2 separate regions of the Homo sapiens genome follow, and region 2 is linked to region 1. The links come from fine-mapping of genetic effects on gene expression. A gene starts in region 1. The other region holds a variant in brackets. All regions are shown on one strand. Distances are from middle to middle.

Evidence for each region. PIP is the estimated chance that this variant, and not a neighbour inherited with it, causes the effect.
Region 2: its variant is fine-mapped to the expression of KCNC3 in whole blood (TOPMed, PIP above 0.99).

The regions. Positions count from the first base shown.
Region 1 is chr19:50,324,630-50,335,991 of GRCh38, reverse strand. It overlaps KCNC3 (potassium voltage-gated channel subfamily C member 3), which reads left to right and starts at 6,615. Exons shown (of 5, transcript NM_004977.3): 1 at 6,615-7,779. The coding sequence starts at 6,910. LOC105372437 (a long non-coding RNA gene) reads right to left here and starts at 6,372. Exons shown (of 4, transcript XR_007067299.1): 1 at 6,197-6,372. It also overlaps the pseudogene NAPSB. RefSeq lists enhancers at 1,422-2,374, 3,885-3,984, 4,295-4,344, 6,606-6,900, 9,477-9,998 and silencers at 4,925-5,294, 5,308-5,487, 6,365-6,424, 6,505-7,054, 7,663-7,752 and 2 more.
Region 2 is chr19:50,357,624-50,368,985 of GRCh38, reverse strand. NAPSA (napsin A aspartic peptidase) reads left to right here and starts at 3,347. Exons shown (of 9, transcript NM_004851.3): 1 at 3,347-3,447; 2 at 6,673-6,814; 3 at 6,894-7,017; 4 at 7,205-7,323; 5 at 7,846-8,045; 6 at 9,124-9,246; 7 at 9,339-9,483; 8 at 9,877-9,975; 9 at 10,206-10,509. The coding sequence starts at 3,365. The coding sequence ends at 10,433. The region is part of intron 3 of LOC105372437 (a long non-coding RNA gene); the gene reads right to left. RefSeq lists enhancers at 144-203, 2,997-3,146. The variant T/C (reference allele first, on the strand shown) is at 5,729.

The DNA of each region.
Region 1 (11,362 bases):
CCAACAGTTCAATATGCTGAGTTTCAAAATCAAACTAGGAAATTCTATGCCCCACCCAACCAAATACTCAGGAACCTTCTCTTCACCATAAAGCTCAAATCCCATTTGAGAACACTGACCAGAAGTCAGGAAATGCCTGATTGAATTCACGAAGCCCCACCCACCTGGTAGGAAGGTCAATCTTATGCTCAGAAGTCCCACCCACCACCCGAGAAGTCTTCACTTTCCCTCCCAGGGCCCATCACACACAGTCCAATGCCCACTCAGTTACCCTGACATCCAACCCACTCAAGAAGTTCCACCTAGCTCTCGGTAGGTCCCACTCATTTACATCTTCCAGGAAGTTTCCATCCCCGTTCCCATCACTCTCAGCCAGCTCAGGAAGTCTAACACCTTTCTAGATACCACAACAGGCAATTCAGAAAGTCTATGCACCTTCCCAGGAAGCCACCCCACTCCTGTACAAGTCACACCTTCGAGCCAATTCTGAGACTCCACTGGTCTGCTTGGTTACTATGATATTCAGCTCAGGAATTTCCCCCAAAAGCTCTACCTTCCACAGCCAAATGAAGAAGTCTCCTCTCCACTTCAGGAAGTATCCATCATCCTAAAGTCCTAACTTCCATCAAGAAAAGCACCATTTCCCTTCATTTCTTGTTTCCAGTCCCAACATCTCGGCCCTGCCTGCATTCCACTGCCCCAACTAGAACCCCAAAAATGACCCAATTGGCAGGAAGTCCCATCCCTGGCCATTCCTAGGGCTGGCGGGGGAGGGCTGGCGACAATGACCTCTACACTCTGCCCCTGCAGGGACCCTGAAGTGGCTGATGGAGGAGAGCTGGTCCTGGGGGGCTCAGACCCGGCACACTACATCCCACCCCTCACCTTCGTGCCAGTCACAGTCCCCGCCTACTGGCAGATCCACATGGAGCGGTGAGGGACTTGGTCTCCTGGGTCTGGAGCTGGAGGCCTGGACTCCTAGGACCCTGCCTCTAATGACTGCTTCCTTCCCCCTCAGTGTGAAGGTGGGCTCACGGCTGACTCTCTGTGCCCAGGGCTGTGCTGCCATCCTGGATACAGGCACACCTGTCATCGTAGGACCCACTGAGGAGATCCGGGCCCTGCATGCAGCCATTGGGGGAATCCCCTTGCTGGCTGGGGAGGTGAGGTCCCAGTCTCTGGTGGGTGTGTCCTGGGGAAGATGATGGCAATTCCATGGCGAACACTGCGGCCTGAGGATGGGAAGCAGGTAGCTAGAGCGTATCCAGGACAGAGGGGACTGGGCTTCTTAAGTGACATGCCAGAGAGTGGTGGGAGGAAGCAAAGATACTTCCCAAGTGTCTATGCTAAGTGGCTCAGTGGATGGTGAAGTAGGGGTGGGAGTGGGGGGGGGGTTGTTGGGGGAGATGATAATGCAGTTTTGTTTGGGACTAGATGAGAGGAGCCTAGGCAACAGGGCTGTCCACACACGGTGCTGAATACCCAGGTGCTCAATATGAACATTACTCCATGGCACTGGGGAGCCACGGACGGGATTTGAGCAGAGCAGGAATCTCCCATCTTCACTTGTTCCTCTCCTCCACCAGTACATCATCCGGTGCTCAGAAATCCCAAAGCTCCCCGCAGTCTCACTCCTCATTGGGGGGGTCTGGTTTAATCTCACGGCCCAGGATTACGTCATCCAGGTAGGTGTCCGTCATAATGACGCCACAGTGATGTAATATGACTGGAGTTGAGAGGGTGGAGCTGGTAGTTGGACATCACTAGGGCCGGAAGGGGCCACAGAAACATTTCTTGTCCCCGGGGTTGGGGGCGGAGAGAGCACGGACTCCCAGGGAAATGGTGGTTCCTGCGGCCTGGACACCCAGTTGCCGCCTTGTCGCCTTGCAGTTTGCTCAGGGTGACGTCCGCCTCTGCTTGTCCGGCTTCCGGGCCTTGGACATCGCTTCGCCTCCAGTACCTGTGTGGATCCTCGGCGACGTTTTCTTGGGGGCGTATGTGACCGTCTTCGACCGCGGGGACATGAAGAGCGGCGCACGAGTGGGACTGGCGCGCGCTCGCCCTCGCGGAGCGGACCTGGGAAGGCGCGAGACCGCGCAGGCGCAGTACCGCGGGTGCCGCCCAGGTGATGCGCATGCGCACCGGGTAGCAGAGCTAGCGCTACTCAGTAAAAATCCAATATTTCCATTGAACGAACCTGCCTAGGTTGCTTCTTTTCAGAGCGTACTTTTTGAAGAGAAAGCTTTGTGCATGGACCCACGGAGTTGAGGAAGAGAGGGAGGCGAAGGGTATCACCCCTTTTCTCCACGGCGCACCCTTGTGATGGGCCTTGTACTACGAGTCCCATGAAGGCCCTCGCCTACGCTGCCTTTCGTCAAAGGCTCCTGGCTCCGTGGAGCATCACGGTCGTTGTAGTCCACGCCGTGGTCACGCCCTGACGGGGGCGGGCGCAGCCACAACATGCGTGGGAGGCGACAGGTCGCGACGGCAGCCACAGGTGGCAGTCGGGGGTGGCTGTAATTGGTAAGGGTTTACCAGTTCCTGTTCTAAGGGGCGGGGATACCGTTCCCTCGGACCTCGTCTCCTGTTTCTCCTCTCTGCCTTGGCATTCCAGGACCCCGGGGTCCGCCATAAAGGCGGAGCTTGAAGCCCCTGGGTTGGGGGAGCGGTGCTGCCCCTCCTCCGGCGGTGATGTCACTCCCCCCTCTGCAGCCTCTTGCTGCCCAGAGCTGCCGGGGCTGGGTCACCCCTCCCCCCATCTCGAGCCCCGGATTCCCCCATCCCCACCTCGCCTCGACTTGGGGTGAGTACGGGGGAGGGGGCGAAGGCTCAGGGTCCGGGGGCGGTAAGACAGCCCGAATCCTAGTTTTGGAGACGGGGGACTTGGGATCCAGGGACCCAAAGATTATAGCGGGGAGATTCCCCTCGACTCTGAGCTTTCGGGGCCAAGGTACTTGGAGGGTTTTAGGGGACGAAGGATCGTAGGCAGAGAGTCCTCACATTTTCACCTTTGGTGTCCAGAGACCAAGGCTCCGAATGGAACCGGGTGGGAATGGGGGCAGAGGAACAAGGAAGGGGTCGTAGAAGTCAGGGAGGGAAGACCCTTCCCCAATTCCAGGGCCTGGGGTAATGGGGGAGGGAGGGTTATCAGGGGACGCCGAAGATGACGTAGATGGGAGTTGGAGCTTTCAGGAATTTTGTGTCTTGAGGGCCTGGGAACGGATGGATTGGGAGGAGCAGGGGTGGGGAAAGGAACTGAAAACGAGACAGACGTTGGCCTCTCCCCTCCTGGTGTCCCTAGTCAAGAGTCGAGTCTACTTCCTCCTGGTCTGTGAACATAGCTGAGTGTCCAGTATTTGGAGCCCTCATGAAGCTTCCAGAAGCCCCCTCCTCTCTAATGGGTGGGTGGAGACTCCAGGCTCACAAATCCTCCCATAGACCCTGGTGGGGTCTGTGGAGGGCCATGAGGGAGTGCTGGCATCCAAGTTTCCCAGGGCCTGATGGAATGTGGACGGACCAGCCTGCTACTCCCGGCCCGCTGCCTCTTCCCCTCCCATGGCCTCTAATCCTGAGTCGCATCGCACATTCCTCCTTATTCCAGCCCCTTTTCCCCACAGCCCCCACCTTCTCCCACACTTCTGACCTCTGCAAAAAAACGCTGATTTAGCCACTTGATACCGTGCCTGGCTGCTGTGAAAAGCAGAAGGGAAAAGCAGGGTTGAGGGGGGAGTGTGGAGGAGGATGGCGACCGAGGTCCTTACCTAGCCCATAGTGCCTACCCAGCCCTTGCTCCTGCCTCCACCACCCCACCCCCAATTGCCCAGGAGCCTCATCCAGCCCCAGCCCAGTCCCTCACCTCAGGATTCTCTGCTTCTGCCTGGGGGTGCACCAGAATTCGGGGAAGGGGTAGGAAGTACCTATGTCTTTTCTGTGCCCTCTTGGATTCCATCAGAAGCTGAAGGACATGATGGATTGGGTGCAATGGAGAGCCCTGGGTCTGGGGAGTGAGGGCAACGACCTTCCTGGGCTGCAGGACAGGCCCCACTTCTGCAACTCTCTCTGCAGTGACGCAGTCCCAGCTAGGACGGGGGTTAGAGAGGGTGATGGGGGGTCTGAGAAAAAGGAACGGAGACCCAGAGAGAGGGGGACAGGGTCCCCAGGAAGTGGAGACAGAGACCTAGAAAGAGAGAGACCCAGAAGAAGGTGAAACATAGGAGGAATAGAGACTCAGGGAGGGGACATAGAGAAAGTGAAGAGGCAGAAACTTAGAGGGAGAGAGAGAAGAACAGAGAGCCAGCAAGAGAAAGAGCAGAGACAGAGGAGGGAAAGAGACGGAAGAGGGGGAAATACACCAGAGATGGGGAGAAGGGGAAGAAGGAGGGGGAAATACACCAGAGATGGGGAGAAGGGGAAGAAGGAGGGGGAAATACACCAGAGATGGGGAGAAGGGGAAGAAGGAGGGGGAAATACACCAGAGATGGGGAGAAGGGGAAGAAGAAGGGGGAGGGGAAAGAGGTTGTCAGAGAGCAAGGAGGAGACAGACTCAGATGAAAGGGCAGAGACCCAGAGAGGAGGCAGGACAAAGCGGGTTGCGGGGAGGGAGTAGAGGACAGGGACACAAGACCCAGGGAGTGCGGTACAGAGCCCCAGACAGAGAGGCACACCCCTGATAAAATGGTACAGAAACCAAGAGAAAGAGACTCGGGGGAGCTGGGGTGGGGGGGCGGGGACTGAGACACCAGGGAGGAGAGACTGAGGCCTAGAGAGAAGAGGAGCAAAGACTCAGAAGGAGGGGGACAGAATCAGAGACCCAGGAGGGCAGATTTACAAACGAGGGGTCGGAGACTCAGAGGGGTGGGAACAGAGACGGCGGCACAAATACTCAAGAAGGGAGAAAAAGAGACGCCAAGAAACCCAGAAACGGGAGCGGGGGTGGGATGGGGTTGGGAGGCGATACGAATCAGCCGCCGCACCTGCAGCAGGAAGCGGCGGGCCAGAAACTGTGCTGCCCGAGGGCGCCCGCAGCCCCCTGACCCGCCCCCTTCGCTCCCGCAGGCGCCGCCTCCTCCCTCCGCAGCCCCAGCCGCAGCCGCTGGCCCCGCCCCAGCCCCCTGAGCCTGCGCTCTGCCTCTCGGAGCCTACGACCGCCCAGGGGGCGGGGACGGCCCGCTCCGAGGCGGTCCCCTTTTTCTGGCCCCGCCCCTCACTCCATTCTTCCCCAGAACCCGACCTCTGAGACTCCTAGCCCACCCCATTTTTTATCGGTCCTGCCTATATTGCCTCAGTCTTGACGGTGCTTCCTGGCGCTTTGGCCTCTCCCCTCTCCCGTCCTCTCTGCCTCCTTGCGTGCCCCCTCCTCACCAGTCCTCATCTACCCTCGGTCCTCCAATCTGCAGTCCGCCGCGGTGTAGCGTTCGTTAGAAGTTCTCGCCTCGCCCTTTGAGACCCTGTGACCTTTAGGCAGTGCCCTCTCCCAGGTCTTCTGATCCCGAAGACTCCCCGTTCCAGGTCCCTCCCCTCCATCCAGCCCAGTAGCTTTGTACTCTTTGTAGTCTCATTGTTCCCCTGGGATCCACCTCTCCCGTTCCTCTACCCTCCCTTAGCCCTGCCCTGCCCTCGCCTACCCTGGTTGCTTTCAAGACCCTCAAGCCCCGCTCCTTCCTTAGTCTCTCTTTCCTACCGCCCATTCAAGACGTTTTCTTTTTCTTTTATTTATTTATTTTTTGACACAGAGTCTCGCTCTGTCGCCCAGGCTGGAGTGGAGTGGTGCGATCTCGACTCATTGCAACCTCTACTTCCCAGGTTCAAGCGATTCTCCTGCCTCAACCTCCCGACTAGCTGGGACTACAGGCACCCACAACCACGCCCGACTAATTTTTGTATTTTTAGTAGAGGCGGGGCTTCACCATTTTGGCCGGGCTGGTCTCGAACTCCTGACCTCAAATGATCCACCCACCTCAGCCTCGCAAAGTGCTGGCGTTACAGGCGTGAGCCACTGCGCCCTGCCTCAAGACGTTTTCTATTTGTCGACCCCACTCACCTTCCTCAGTACCACTCATCCATCCGGACACTCATTCTCCGGGCCCAGCCCCGACTAACCAGGCCCGCCTTGGAGCCTCAGCCCCGCTCCCTCCCTTAGGCCTATCCAGACCCTCTCGGGTTTCCAGGACTCTCTCAAGTTTCAACACCTTCTCACCGAGTCTAAGTCTTTGTTCTTCCCGTGTCCTCTTTCAGTCCAGCCTGTCCCCCTTGCGCGGGAAAGTCCTCCATCTCTAGTTCCCGCCCCATGCAGTCTCATCTGGACCGTTTCTACTTTCTGCGGCCCTGTCTCTTCCAAGCAATGCTCCTCCCCACCAGGTCCTGCCTAGCGGTGTTTTAGGTGAGGGCGTGCGATCTGTTTTGTTTCTCTCCGCCCCTTTCTCAGCCCAATCAGGACGGCCTCTCTCATGGTGGCCCCGCCCCTCCAGGCCAGTCGGGCGTCTTTAAATAGCTTGGATGTGTCCCCTCCTCCCTCTACCCCGCCCGCACTTTTTTCAGTTCAGTAAGGTCTCTCTCTATCGTATCTAGCCCCGCCTTCCCCTGGCTACCAGTGCTGCCGAACACAATTAGTAGTAACCGGTCCCGCCTCCCTTGACGCCCCGCCCCGCCCCTCCTCCCTGCTCTCTTAGAAAGAGCCAATCGCTCCGTCTCATTGGCGGCCCCGACTCGTCCAGCTGGGTCGCGTTAGAGTGCCCGCCCCACTCCTCCCAGCCACAGCCCCGCCCCACCTCCCCCAGGCCAATCAGTTTGGTTCCTCTCCCCTAAGCCACGCCCCCGCTACCTCGCTCCTCCTCCCACCCAATCCCGTCGGTCTCTCCCCCCGTGTCCCCGCCCCTGCGTCCCCGCCCCTCCCGCCCCGCCCCCCGTCCAATGCTGAGCTCAGTCTGCGTCTCGTCCTTCCGCGGGCGCCAGGGGGCCAGCAAGCAGCAGCCGGCGCCACCGCCGCAGCCGCCCGAGTCCCCGCCGCCGCCACCGCTGCCGCCGCAGCAGCAGCAGCCTGCGCAGCCCGGCCCCGCCGCGTCCCCGGCGGGCCCCCCGGCACCCCGCGGGCCCGGGGACCGGCGCGCCGAGCCATGCCCCGGGCTGCCGGCGGCGGCCATGGGGCGGCACGGCGGCGGCGGTGGCGACAGCGGCAAGATCGTGATCAACGTGGGCGGCGTGCGCCATGAGACGTACCGCTCGACGCTGCGCACCCTGCCGGGGACGCGGCTGGCCGGCCTGACGGAGCCCGAGGCGGCGGCACGCTTCGACTACGACCCGGGCGCCGACGAGTTCTTCTTTGACCGGCACCCGGGAGTCTTCGCGTACGTGCTCAACTACTACCGCACCGGCAAGCTGCACTGCCCAGCCGACGTGTGCGGGCCCCTGTTTGAGGAGGAGCTCGGCTTCTGGGGCATCGACGAGACCGACGTGGAGGCCTGCTGCTGGATGACCTACCGGCAGCATCGCGACGCTGAGGAGGCGCTCGACTCCTTCGAGGCGCCCGACCCCGCGGGCGCCGCCAACGCCGCCAACGCCGCAGGCGCCCACGACGGAGGCCTGGACGACGAGGCGGGCGCGGGCGGCGGCGGCCTGGACGGAGCGGGCGGCGAGCTCAAGCGCCTCTGCTTCCAGGACGCGGGCGGCGGCGCCGGGGGGCCGCCAGGGGGCGCGGGCGGCGCGGGCGGCACATGGTGGCGCCGCTGGCAGCCCCGCGTGTGGGCGCTCTTCGAGGACCCCTACTCGTCGCGGGCTGCCAGGGTGAGCGCGCTCTCGGGGCCCCCATCCACCCCACCCCCGCCTCTCCAGGCGCCCCCAGTCTCCCAGGAGCGCCCCAGCTCCAACCCTCCGGGTCCCTCTAGGCTTCTCAGTCTCCTAGAAGCCTCTTCCCCAATCCTGAGTCTCCTGGGCTCCTCCGAACACACCCCCCTCTCGCAGCCATCCCCCAGATCCTCCAAAGACGGATCTCCAACCTTCGGGCTCTTCCAGACCCCTCCAAAGTTCCCCCTCCCCCGCCAAGGCCACCCTAGACGCTTAGACACTTCCTCCAGACCGTGAATCTCCCGTGCTTCTCTGAACAACCCGGTCCCCACCTTTCCTGGGCTCCTCTGAGACCCTCCCCAACCCTCATGTCTCCTGGGCCCCATCAAATCTCTTCTCACTACTCTTGGTCACCGTCCAGCCCTTGGTTTCTTGGACCTTCCCCAGCCCCTCAGAAGACATCCCTTCTCAGCCCTCAAATTCTCCTAGGCCCTGTGAGCCCTGACCCCCACTTTCCCTGCCTTCTCCAGACTCTCTGGGGCCCCCTATTCAACTCTCAGTCTCTCCCAGCACCTCCCCGATTCACCCCGTGGCCCGTCTCCCAGAAGACCTCTCTCTCCAAGTTTGAATCTTCTGATTATTTTTTCCACTCCCTTCCTGCAGTATCTTCTGCTCTCAGAGTCTCAGAAAACTCCCCCACCCCAACCTCACAGCCTTCTGGACCCCTCTAAACCTCCACTTGTTCTTGCCTGGACATTTTCACCTCCCCCTCACTGCAATACTGAGTCTTGGGGCATCTTCTCCGTTGGAACCTCCAGGCCCCCTCTGTGTTCACTCTGTGTTTAACACTCTTCAACCTCCACGCCAACTCCCATCTCAAGGACTTTCCCCATAAAGCTCCAGACTTCCCCCAAGCCTTTCACACTCCTCCTCAGTGCCTCCAGAAGCATCCCATGCCCCCATCATATGCCTTTCCTCTCCAGAACCCTCACATGTCCTCCAGAATTGTTCTTCCTCCTCCATAGATCCTCGCAGCTTCTCCTCTCCATCATTTTAACTGCACAGTGCACTCTCTATCCCTGGGACTCCCCCCATCCAAAGCCCCCACAGCCCGTTTCCTAGTCTAAGTGACTTTCCCTCCTGCTCTAGAACTTTTTCTAACCTCAAACCCTGGGAGGCCCCTCAAGTCATCAGCCCTAAAACTTTCATCTCAAAATAACTTACAATTCTTTCTACCTTGCCCTGGGATTCCTTCCACCTGCCCTCTTCCTTTCTCGAACCTCCCCCCCCGCCGTGCAAAACCCAGAACCTAGCCCCTCAGTCTGTCCCCCTCCATCAAAGTGAACCAAAGAGCCTTCTCTCTCTCTCCAAATTCTAGATTTTCCCCAAAGCTCTCTCCATCGCTCCCAGAAAACTTTCCTCAAGCATCCATAACTTCCTAGGCTAAATGACTACCCTCCCCCTGGGTTCTCTCCTGAACCATTTCCTCCTACTAACTTCCTCCCTGTCCCGGGGACCCCGGAGGGAGAATGTGGTGGAAAAGGGGGGCAGTGCAAAATGGGGGCAATTGGAAATGGGGGAAATAAGAGCGATCCCAAGACCCCCTCCTGGGCTCCTGGGTACCCAAACACAGAGGAGCAGGTCTTGGCCCCCTCCCCCCACCGTGCCGCGTCCTGAGCCGGGAAGGACGCGGAGCCGCAGTGCCGCATTCGCGCCGGGGGAGGGAGCGGGGGGACGCCTGGAGCCACCGCATAAAGTTTGGTCCCCAGAAAGCGCTGAGTTGGCGAGATTTGGGGTTGGATGGGGGGAGGTGGGGAAGAGGAGGTGCGGAAGGGACATGGCCCTGGATGCCCCCTCAAGACACTGAGCGGCTCCTTCCCCCATGGCCGGGGCGCCCTTCTCTCCTGTGACCCCATTGAAGGGTGCTGAGATGAGGAGCGGGATGAAGTTAGAGTTCTTCTGTGATGGTCAGGCTAGGTGTTCGGGACAGCTACGGGAGATACTCATTTACTCCGCCAATGTGTTTTGGGTGTCCAAGGTGTGCCGAGCCCTTTCCAGCCTCCCAGTGATATGGCTTGAGAGAGTTGGGAGCTGAGGCCAAAGCAAAGTGGAGGGTCCGACCCTACAGCCCCCTGCCCCCGCCCCCTTCCTCGTAATCACTCCTTTCCTTCTTACAGAGACTCCATGCCCTCCTACCCCTTCTGCTTTTGACACACTCTGGAGTAAGGGGTTAAACCAGCCCGACGCCGTCCAGCCTCTGCAGCTGCGCACTGCGGCGGGTGCCCACCTTTCCCTGTGCCCTGGGAGGGAAGGAGTTAATTAGACTCTTGGCCCTTGGCCTCCCGCCGGAAAGCAGCAACACTGCGGCTGCGCGTTGAATAGGCTCCGGCCCGGAAGGGGTTAAGACGGCCCCTAGCCGCTGCGGCTGCGCACTGCGGCGGGGGAGCTGTCCGCGGTACTGGCCGCCGTGCGCCCCGCCCCCCGGCCCGGCTGGCCCGCCCCCACTGCGGTGCCGCAGCTAGCGCCGCGCGCCCGGCTCGGAGGGGGCGGGGAACTAGGCATGCGCTCTGCGAAGGCCTCTGGCCTCTTAAACCACTGCAGAGAAGCGAAGGTGGGGGTGGGGGGGGAGTTCAGAGAGGACCTGCGCCGGCCCCCAGCCCACCCCAACGTCCAGGGTCCTCTCTGTGGCCCCGAAACTCTCCACCCACTACTTCCCAGCTCTGCACCTCAGTGAAGTCAAGCCCAGAGCCCAACCCCTGTGGAGGAAGGGGGGTGCACAGAGGGACAGTGCTGGCCCTTGGCCCACCCCAAAGTCCAAGGTCCTCTCTGTGGTCCAGCAGTGGCCTCCCCGTGCTCTGTGCCCCTGATTAATAGCAAAACTCCCCATGCCCTCCCTCCTCCACTACCCGCAGGATTAAAACCCTCTCTTTACTATAACACCTGTCTTCCTTCCCTCTCCAATGCACTCCTCTCCCCTCCCACCCCTCTGCATATCTGATAAAGCCCATGACATCTCTAGGGGCCTGGCCCATTGCTTTCCTTCTCCAAGACCCTGACCCCACTCCCTCCTCTTCTAGGCCTTCATCAAAACCCACATCACTGTGTGGCAGGACTCTGGTTATCCCCCATCTTGAAATGGCTCAGGACCCTTCACCCCTCATTCTCTGCCCCTTTGGCAAATGCCCTAACTTCTCTTTGGCCCTGGCTCTGCCTTTTCCCACAATGTCCAGGCCAGTGACTCTCCTTCCTCTTCAGGGCCCTAAACCCTGCCTGACTCTCCTCTTTTATCTCCTCTTCCATTTTTGCAGGCTTAACCCTTCAACCCCTCCTCCCTTAAGGGCCCGGACCCCCACCTCCCCTCTGTGGCACCACCACTGCCCTGTCCTCTCTGGGTGAGGCCTTGACCTTGCCCCCCAACTAACTGCTGCCTGCATACCCTAACAACAGCTCAGGTCTTCTTACTGTGTTCCAGGCACTGCTCCAAGCACTGTGTTTGGAGCCAAGTCCTTCGTACGCTCATCTAATTTAATCCTCACAACAATCCCACTACAAACTTCTGGTTCAGAAAGCTCAGTCTCCTTGC
Region 2 (11,362 bases), 33 kb before region 1:
GGGCCGTGTTCGGCAGGAGATCTCCCAGTACGCTTGGGCAGGGGAGTCAGGGAGGAAGCCTGTTCTGCTCCTTTTCCCGTGGGGTGCAGAGAGCGAGCAAGTCGGCATTCCAGGCGGTGGGAACTGCTAGGGCGGAAGCAGGAAAGCTGGAGAGAGCCTGGTGTTCCAGGGGTCCAGCTCTAGAAACGGGTGGCGGCTGGGGAATCTTGGCTGGGAAAACAGGCCCACACCTCCACCTTGTGGCCAATTGGGAATTTGCAGGCACGGCCTCTCAAACTACTTAAGGGCGCTTGGGTGCAGTTGGATGGGGTGCTGCAGACGGAAAGCGTGCGGGGCGAGTTGAAGGGGCCCAGATCGAGTGCTCTGACTGAGAAAACAAAGGGGGGTGGTGACAGTTATCAGGGACACGTTCGGCTGCTTCAGGAAAATCCCCCAGAGCAAGGAGTGCACAAAGTGGATCTTTACCATTATTTATGTATTTATTTATTTCTGTTGAGACAGTGTCTCACTCTGTCACCTGGGATGGAGTGCAGTGGCGTGATGACGGCTCACTGCAGCTTCAGCCTCCTAGGCTCAAGTTATCCTCCAGCCTCACCTTCCCCAGTAGCTGGGACTACAGGAGTGTGCCATTACGCCCAGATAATTTTTACATTTTTTTTGTACAGACAGGGTCTCCCTTTGTTGCCCAGGCTGGTCTCCAACTCCCAGGCGCAAGCGATCCTCCTGCCTCAGCCTTCCAAAGGGCTGGGATGACACCCCCAGCCTCCCAAACGCACCCCCACCGCACCTAGCCTTTCTTTTGTTTCTTTTTTTTTTTTTTTTTTTTTTGAGAGGGAGTCTTGCTCTGTCGCCCAGACTGGAGTGTAGCAGCGCGATCTTGGCTCACTGCAACTTCCGCCTCCCAGGTTCAAGTGATTCTCCTGCCTCGGCCTTCCGAGTAGCTGGGATTACAGGCGCTGACCACCACGCCTGGCTAATTTTTGTATTTTTAGTAGAGACAGGGTTTCACCATGTTGGCCAGACTGGCCTCGAACTCCTGACCTCAAGTGATCCGCCTGCCTCAGCCTCCTAAAGTGCTGGGATTACAGGCATGAGTTACCGCATCCAGCCGATTTCTAAGGGTTTTGACTCCAGTCCCTGGCTCACTGACTGTATCTCTGGACCCACCTGGGACCTGAGGTAACTTGATGCCCTGAAGGGAAGGATGCAAGCATGGCTGCCTTTGGAACCTGCTAGTTTTAGAGCCCAAGGGCCTTGAGCAAACATAAGCAGTAGGCAGGTAGGTCGTGGTTACAGGAGGCCATGGGCAGGACCCAGCGCAATCCCAGTGATAGTAGGCATGGGGTGTTTGTGTCACCCCACTCCCAGCTCCAGGTAGCTCAGCAGAGAGAGAGAGACAGAGACAGAGAGAGAGAGAGAGAGAGAGAGAGAGAGAGGGAGAGAGAGAGACTGACTCTGTTTGAGAGAAAGCAAGGGAAGAGAGCAAGAGTCTCTGCCTGGTAATCCAGATAAATCTTCTGGATCTTATCTAAGACCACTAAGATAGTACCTCTATGAGTTTGCAAGAACCACAGCATTAATGGGCTTGGGGAGCCCCCTAATGCAGACATGGCTTAGATCACAACACCCAAGTACTTTTGAATACCTGGAAAGCCTCCCCAAAAAGGACAGGTACAAACAAGCCTTGTCTGCAAAGACTACAATAAATACCTAACATGGCCAGGCATGGTGGCTCATGTCTAATCCCAGCATTTTGGGAGGCTGAAGCAGGAAGATCACCTGAGGTCAGGAGTTTGAGACCAGGCTAGACAACATGGTGAAACCCTGTCTCTTCTAAAAATACAAAAATTAGCTGGGTGTAGGCTGGGTGCGGTGGCTCATGCCTGTAATCCCAGCACTTTGGGAGGCCGAGGCAGGTGGATCACCTGAGGTCAGGAGTTCGAGACCAGCCTGACCAATATGATGAAACCCTGTCTTTACTAAAAATACAAAAACTAGCTGGCATGCGCCTATAATCCCAGCTACTTGGGAGGCTGAGACAGGACAATCGCTTGAACTCAGGAGGCAGAGGTTGCAGTGAGCCAAGATGGCGCCATTACACTCCAGCCTAGGCAATAAGAGTGAAACTCCATCTCAAAAAAAAAAAAAAAATTTAGCCAGGGTGGTATCGGGTGCCTGTAGTCCCAGCTACTCGGGAGGCTGAGGCAGAATTACTTGCACCTGGGAGGCAGAGGTTGCAGTGAGCTGAGATCACACCATTGCACTGCAGCTTGGGCAACAAGAGCAAAACTCCATCTAAATAAATAAATAAATAAATAAATAAATAAATAAATAAATAACTCATCAATGCCCAGCCACCAATGAACATCTATAAGCATCAAGGCCATCCAGAATAAATGACCTTACCAAACAAATCAAATAAGCCACCAAGGACCAATCCTTGAAGAAACAGAGATATGTGACCTTTCCGACAGAGAATTTAAAATAGCTGTTTTGAGGAAACTCAAAGAAATTCAAGCTAACACACAGAAGGAATTCAGATTCCATCACATAAATTTAACAAAGAGATTGAAATAATTGAGAATCAGCTGGGTGCAGTGGCTCACGCCTGTAATCCCAGCACTTTAGGAGGCTGAGGCGGGCGGATCACCTGAGGTCGGGAGTTCTAGACCAGCCTGACCAACATGGAGAAACCCTGTCTCTACTAAAACTACAAAATTAGTGGGGCGTGGTTGCGCATGCCTGTAATCCCAGCCTGGGCAACAAGAGTGAAACTCGGTCTCAAAAAAAAAAAAACCAAAAAACAAAAACAAAAACAAACAAACAAAAAACAATACCCAATGATCTGTTGTCAACAAGAAACATACTTCACCTACAAATAAAACAGTAAGAGACTGGGTCCTGAAATGCGGGCCCACTTCATATGTGAGGGCAGGTGTCTAATCATGTCCTTTCTCCCTTCCCCCAGGCCCTTCACAGATACCTGCTGGTCTCTCCCACTTGGCCAAGGAAACACTTGTGGTTAATAAGTCTCAGAAAAGTTATGTGAAAGTTAAAAGTAAAACTGACAGCAGCTGAAGGATGGGGGGGTGGGAGGTGGTGACGGTGGAGGAGACCCCACCACCACTGCCACCCAAGTAGGGAGTGAGGAGCACCAGGAGCACAGGATGCTACTTCTGCCAACCCTACAAAAATACTCTGCACAAATCTTCAAAAAACATCCTTGTCCCACTGCGTCACCTGCGGACAGATTTCATGTCCTGGTCTCCTTCTAAACCTGGAGGTGGGGCATGAACAGGGTGGAGTCACAGGGGAAAGAAAATGAGGCCCCAGGACACCTGGGTTCACACCCAGGTCCCCAGCGATGTCTCCACCACCGCTGCTGCAACCCCTGCTGCTGCTGCTGCCTCTGCTGAATGTGGAGCCTTCCGGGGCCACACTGATCCGGTATGGTGACCCCATCTACCACCCCAACCTTAGGAGGGATTTTCTGCCTCTTGCCCTTTAAGTCTAGGACTCCCAGTTCAGTGATCCCCAAACTTGGCACCCAGGATCCCTAGAGCTTCTTTCTCAGCTTTCCAGATCTCTAAACCAGGCTGTCACCCCTAAGGGCTCCACTCTGACATCTCTTAAGACCAGATTTCTTTTTTTTGAGATGGAGTCTCACTCTGTTGCCCAGGCTGGAGTGCAATGGCATGATCTCAGCTCACTGAAACCTCTGCCTCCTGGGTTCAAGCGATTCTCCTGCCTCAGCTTCCCAAGTAGCTGGGATTACAGGCTCGCGCCACCATGCTCAGCTAATTTTTGTATTTTTAGTAGAGACGGGGTTTCACCATGTTGGCCAGGCTGGTCTGGAACCCCTGACCTCGTGATCCGCTCACCTCGGCCTCCCAAAGTGCTGGGATTACAGGCGTGAGCCACCGCGCCTGGCTGACCAGAGCCCTTTTATTATTATTATTATTATTATTATTATTTATTATTATTATTATTATTTGAGACAGAGTCTTGCTCTGTTACCCAGGCTGGAGTGCAGTGGGGCGATCTCAGCTCACTGCAACCTCTGCCTCCCGGGTTCAAGTGATTCTCCTGCCTCAGCCTCCCAAGTAGCTGGGACTACAGGCACATGCCACCACGCCCGGCTAATTTTTGTATTTTTAGTAGAGATGGGGTTTCGCCATGTTTGCCAGGCTGTCTTGAACTCCTGACCTCAAGTGATCTTTCCGCCTCAGCCTCCAAAAGTGCTGTGGTTACAGCTGTGAGCCCCCGCGTCCGGTCCCAGAGCCCTTTTAAGTCCCAGATCTTACAACACTGAGACTCTAGATTGAGGACCCCTCCCCCTCCTCTCAGGACTTTTTTTTTTTTTTTTTTTTTGAGACTGAGTCTCACTCTGTTGCCCAGGCTGGAGTGCAGTGGCGCAATCTTGGCTCACTGCAAGCTCTGTCCCCCGGGTTCACATCATTCTCCTGCCTCAGCCTCCCAAGCAGCTGGGACTACAGGCACCCGCCACCACGCCCGGCTAATTTTTTGTATTTTTAGTAGAGATGGGGTTTCACAGTGTTAGCCAGGATGGTCTCGATCTCCTGACCTCGTGATCCACCCACCTCAGCCTCGCAAAGTGCTGGGATTACAGGCGTAAGCCACCGCGCCTGGCCTTTTTTTTTTTTTTTTTTTGAGACGGAGTCTTGCCCTGTCGCCCAGGCTGGAGTGCAATGGCGCGATCTCAGCTCACTGCAACCTCCACCTCCCAGGCTGACACCATTCTCCTGCCTCTGAAAGTGCTGGGATTACAGGCGTGAGTCACCATGCCCGGCTAATTTTTTTTGTATCTTTAGTAGAGATGAGGTTTCACCATGTTGGCCAAGCTGGTCTTGAACTCCTGACTTCGTGATCTGCCTGCCTCAGCCTCCCAAAGTGCTGGGATTACAGGCGTGAGCCACTGCGCCTGGCCAGGACATGTTTTTGAGAGGTCTCTGCAGACCCTACTATGAGCTCTGATGATTAGGTACTGTGGTTTCCAGACCTGTGACACACTCCTCCCATCTTCGAGCCCCAGATATGTGACATTTAAACTGAGACTCCCCCACATCACGCCCATCAAACTGGCCTGAAGAAGTCATGTTTTTGGCCAGAGACATGGCTCACACCTGTAACCCAGCACTTTGGAAGTCCAAGGTGGGAAGCTTGTTTGAGGCCAAGAGTTTTGAGACCAGCCTGGGCAACATGGCCAGACTCCACCTCTACAAAAAATACAAAAATTAGCTCAGTGTGGTGGTGCACACCCATGGTCCCAGCTAGTTCAGGAGGGTGAGGAAGGAGGATTGCTTGAGCCCAGTAGTTCGAGGGGGCAGTGGGCTATGATCCTGCTACTGCACTCCAGGCTGGGCAACAGGGTGACACCTTGTCTAAAAAAAAAATTAATAAATAAAATAAAATAAAATAAAAAGCCAGGTGTGGTGGTGTGCCCATAGTCTCAGCTACTCCAGAGGCTGAGGTGGGAGAATCACTTGAGCCCTGGAGATCAAGGCTGCAGTGAGCCCTGACTGCACTACTGCACTCCAGCCTGGGTGACAGAGGGAGACCCTGTTTCAAATAAAAAGTTTAAAAGAAGAAAAAGAAATCCAATCTTGGGGACCCTATGCAAGAAGTCTTCCCACTACCTTACCTCTGATGTCCCCTCCCCGCCCCCATCTCTCTTTTTCTCCTCTCTTGTCTTCATTCCCTGGAACTC[T/C]TGGTAGGGGGAGGGGTGTACACTTCCAGGAAGAGTTTTCCCCACTTCACATTCTCGTGCCTCTCAAAGACTGACTCATGGGGGGTGACGGGAAAGGTGTGAGTGATGTGACAAGTGCTTCAAGGAGTGACTAAAGGCAGGAACGAAGATATTACCGCACATGGTGCTTGTTAACCTGCTTTTTGAACCTAATGTCTCATGGCCATTTTCTAAGTCAATGCAAAGAAAATGAGTCTCCAAATGTTGTATCAACAGCATCGTCATGACCTGGGAACTTGTTAGAAATCCAAATTCTCGGCTCCATCCTAGACCTACTTAATTAGCAACTAAGATACCTGAATTGTAATTGGCCCTCTAAGTCAAGGGTTGCAAACACTCAGCTTAAGGGCCAAATCCTGTTTGCCTCCTGCTTTTGCAAATACAGTTTAAAGGAACCCGGACAGGGCATAGTGGCTCTCCTCTGTAATCCCAGCACTTTAGGAGGCTGAGGCCAGGAGTTTGAGATCAGCACGGGCAACACAGCAAGACAATTAAGATTTGACGCTTACATTTTTCTCCTCAAGGGTGGGGAAAATAGTCCCTAACCTCACGAACTGAAGCATGCAGGGGCCACCACCCAAGGGCTTTTGCAAAGGTTAGGTTTTCTGTTAGGGTCTTGGGAAATCTTTAAGAATGTCAATTCCTTGGGAATAGCTTATTTTAAGGGATTTGGACATGGAAAGGTCTGTTTGGGATGGTTTGCTCTTGTAAAGTCTTTGGGGATATTTGTCATCATGGCATCTTTGATGGGCTTTTCTGGAGGTTGTTATTGCAGGGTTTCTGGTACTGACTACTATTGTAGTGCCTTGGAGATGTTGAATTTGTCATCATATCCTATTTGGGTAAGTCTATTTAGAGGTTCTCCAAGAAGGGCAGCTTCCTGTCAATATCCTCTTTCCCTACAGCATCCCTCTTCATCGAGTCCAACCTGGACGCAGGATCCTGAACCTACTGAGGGGATGGAGAGAACCAGCAGAGCTCCCCAAGTTGGGGGCCCCATCCCCTGGGGACAAGCCCATCTTCGTACCTCTCTCGAACTACAGGGATGTGAGTCACAGCCCCACACAGCCCTCACCCCTGCGCCCTTGAGCCAAACTCTTCGTTTACTCTCCTCTTTTGCTATCAGGTGCAGTATTTTGGGGAAATTGGGCTGGGAACGCCTCCACAAAACTTCACTGTTGCCTTTGACACTGGCTCCTCCAATCTCTGGGTCCCGTCCAGGAGATGCCACTTCTTCAGTGTGCCCTGCTGTGAGCTTCTATGTGGGAGAATAAGGCTGAATGGGGGTGAAGGGAGGAGGCGGGGCTGGACCTCAGCTTCTCAGAGGCTTTTGAGGAACTGTTCTTTTATCATGCCCTCACAGGTCAGAAAGTCAAAGGGGCAGTAGGCACTGGGGAGATTCCCTCCCCCATGACACCTTTCTGACCTCTAACCTAGGGTTACACCACCGATTTGATCCCAAAGCCTCTAGCTCCTTCCAGGCCAATGGGACCAAGTTTGCCATTCAATATGGAACTGGGCGGGTAGATGGAATCCTGAGCGAGGACAAGCTGACTGTGAGTGGCCTTTGACTCTCAGAAGTCTTGAGCCTGGGAGAACCCCATTGTCTAAGATCATCTGGCTTAGGAAGAGGCTCGAGGAGGAGCTTCCCAAGCCAATGGATGGGGCTTTTCAAGTGGGGAGGAGGGCCTGCCTTTCAGAGTGAAGGGATGGTGCGTCACAAGGAGGGGGAGGGGCTTCCTGGGTGAAGAGGTGGGGCTTCTCAAGCAGGGGGGAGGAGCTTCCAAGGTTAAGAGGTGGGGCTTCTCAAGCAGGGAGGAGGAGCTTCCTGGGTGAAGAGGTGGGGCTTCTCAAGCAGGGGAGGAGCTTCCTGGGTGAAGAGGTGGGGCTTCTCAAGGAGAAGAAAGGGGTTCCTGGGTGAAGGGGTGGGGCTTCTCAAGAGGCATAGTTTCCTAGGAAGTTGGGGCTTGCATCCAGAAGTCCCCAGACCTAGGATTCATGCCTTGGTTTGGGAGACCTCAGGACATGTGGTTATTGTCCTCCCAAAAGTAACTGGTCACATCTCAATCTACCCCTAGATTGGTGGAATCAAGGGTGCATCAGTGATTTTCGGGGAGGCTCTCTGGGAGCCCAGCCTGGTCTTCGCTTTTGCCCATTTTGATGGGATATTGGGCCTCGGTTTTCCCATTCTGTCTGTGGAAGGAGTTCGGCCCCCGATGGATGTACTGGTGGAGCAGGGGCTATTGGATAAGCCTGTCTTCTCCTTTTACCTCAACAGGTACTGGGAAGTGTGCACCTATCTATGAGTCCTATCCCCAAGAAGGAAGAGAGTCTTCCTTCAGGAAGTCACTGACCCAATGCAGGAATTCTCATTCTCAGAGTCACCCACTTACACTGTCCATTCAGGAAGTCAGCCATTCAATACAAGAAGTTGCATCCTCCATGCAGGAAGTCACCTGCCCTATAAAGAAACACCTCAACCCTATTCGAAGTCCCAGAGCTTAAATGACAACTTAAGACATACTAAGGAAACCCACCATCAGTTCAGAATGCTCCATGTTTCAAAATCAAACTAGGAAATTCCATGCCCCACCCAACAAAATACTCAGGAGCTTTCTCTTCCTCACAAAGAATGCTCAAATCCCATTTGAGAACACTGACCAGAAGTCAGGAATTGCCCGATTTAATCCAGGAAGTCCCACTCACCTGCTAGGAAGTTCAGTATTATGCTCAGAAGTCCCACCCAACATCCAAGAAGTTTCCAAGAAGTCTCCACTTTCCCTCCCAGAGGCCTGTCACACACAGTCAGAAAATCCTATGCCCACTCAGTTACCCTGACATCCAACCCACTCTAGCAGTTCTACCAACCACCTAGCAGATCCTGCTCTCCTCCACCTTCCAGGAAGTCTCCATCCCTGTTCCCATCGCTCTCAGCCAACTCAGGAAGTCTAACACCTCTCTAGATATCACAACAGGCAATTCAGAAATTCTCTTCTCCTACTCAGGAAGCCACCCCACCCCTGCACAAGTCACACCTTCAAGAGCCAATTCCAAGACACCACTGCTCTACTTGGTTACTATGATATTCAGCTCAGGAAATTCCCCAAAACTCTACCTTCCACAGCCAAATGAAGTCTCGTCTTCACTTCAGGAAGTTCTAGCTTCCACCAAGAAAAGCATCATGCTTTTCTTGCCCGGCTTCCAGTCCCAACATCTAGGCCCTTCCTGCATCCCATTACCCCGTAGGAACTCCAGAAACAACCCAGTTGGTGGGAAGTGCCATTCCTGGCAATACCTAGGGCTGAGGGAGGGCCAGTGACACTGACATCTACACTCTCTACACTCTGCCCCTGCAGGGACCCTGAAGAGCCTGATGGAGGAGAGCTGGTCCTGGGGGGCTCGGACCCGGCACACTACATCCCACCCCTCACCTTCGTGCCAGTCACGGTCCCTGCCTACTGGCAGATCCACATGGAGCGGTGAGGGACTTGGTCTCCTGGCTCTGGAGCTGGAGGCTGGGGGCCTGGACTCCTAGGACCCTGCCTCTGATGACTGCCTCCTTCCCCCTCAGTGTGAAGGTGGGCCCAGGGCTGACTCTCTGTGCCAAGGGCTGTGCTGCCATCCTGGATACGGGCACGTCCCTCATCACAGGACCCACTGAGGAGATCCGGGCCCTGCATGCAGCCATTGGGGGAATCCCCTTGCTGGCTGGGGAGGTGAGGTCCCAGTCTGGTGGGTACGGGCTGGGAAGGCTGATGGCAGTTTGACAGTGAACATCAAAGGGCCTGAGGGTGGGAGGCAAGTATTTAAGGGGCTTTCCAGGGCAGCAGGCACTGGACTTCGTGACAGATAGTCTGGAGGGTGGTGGAGGAATTGAGGACACTTTCCACGTGTCTACACTGCGACTCTGCGGATGGTGGCCGGGTGGAGGGAGACGATCATGCAGGTTTGCTTGGGACTGCGTAAGTCTAGGCGGCAGGGCCTCTGCACACAGGACGCTGAGTACCCAGGTGCTCAATAGGGAAATTACCCTATGGCACTGGGGAGCCACGGAAGGGACTGAACAGAGCAGGAATCTCTCATCTTCACTAGTTCCTCTTCTCCCCCAGTACATCATCCTGTGCTCGGAAATCCCAAAGCTCCCCGCAGTCTCCTTCCTTCTTGGGGGGGTCTGGTTTAACCTCACGGCCCATGATTACGTCATCCAGGTAGGTGGCCATCACCATGACGCCATAGTGACGTCATATGACGGTTTGAGAGGGTAGAGCTGAGAGACGTCACTAGGAAGGGAAGGGGCCACAGAAACATTTCTTTTCCCTGTGATGGCAGTTTGTTGGCGAACATCAAAGAACCCGAGGGTGGGGGGGATGGACGGGCTCCCAGGCAAATGGCCGTCCTTGTGGCCGCGACACCCAGTTGTCGTCTTGTTGCCTTGCAGACTACTCGAAATGGCGTCCGCCTCTGCTTGTCCGGTTTCCAGGCCCTGGATGTCCCTCCGCCTGCAGGGCCCTTCTGGATCCTCGGTGACGTCTTCTTGGGGACGTATGTGGCCGTCTTCGACCGCGGGGACATGAAGAGCAGCGCCCGGGTGGGCCTGGCGCGCGCTCGCACTCGCGGAGCGGACCTCGGATGGGGAGAGACTGCGCAGGCGCAGTTCCCCGGGTGACGCCCAAGTGAAGCGCATGCGCAGCGGGTGGTCGCGGAGGTCCTGCTACCCAGTAAAAATCCACTATTTCCATTGAGCGAACCTGCCTGGGTTGCTTCTTTTCAGAGCGTACTTTTTAACGAGAAAGCTTTGTGACCGGGCGCGGTGTCTCACGCCCGTAATCCCAGAACTTTGGGAGGTCGAGGCGGGTGGATCACCTGAGGTCAGGAGTTCGAGACCAACCTGGCCAACATGGTGAAACCCCGTCTCTACTAAAAATACAAAAAAAATTATCCGGGAGTGGTGGCGCATGCCTGTAATCCCAGCTACTCGGGAGGCTGAGGCAGGCGAATGGCTTGAACTTGGGAGGCCGAGGTTGCAGTGAGCCAAGACCGCACCATTGCACTCCAGCCTGGGCAACAACGAAACTCCATCTCAAAAATAATAATAGAAAACTTTGTGCCTGTACCCATGGAGTTGAGGAAGAGGGAGGCGAAGGGTATCACCCCTTTTCTCCAGGACGCACCCTGGTGAGGGGTTTTGTAATACGAGTCCCATGAAGCCCCTCGCCTACGCTACCTTCCGTCAAAAGCTCCCGGCGCCGTGGAGCATCACGGTCGTTGTAATCCACGCCGTGGTCACGCCCTGACGGGGGCGGGCGCAGCCACAACATGGGTGGGAGGCGACAGGTTGCGACGGCAGCGACAGGTGGCAGTGGGGGTTGGCCGTAATTGGTAAGGGTTTACCAGTTCCTGTTCAAGGGGGCAAGGATACCATTCCCCCGGATCTCATCTCCTGTTTCTCCTCTCTCCCTCCGGATTCCTAGACCCCTGGGGAGCTCGAGGCCCCCGGGTTCGGGGAGCGGTGCTGCCCCACCCGCGGAGGTGACGTCACTCTCCCCTCCTCAGCCTCTTGCTACCCAGAACTAAATGATTCGACAAAACGACCGG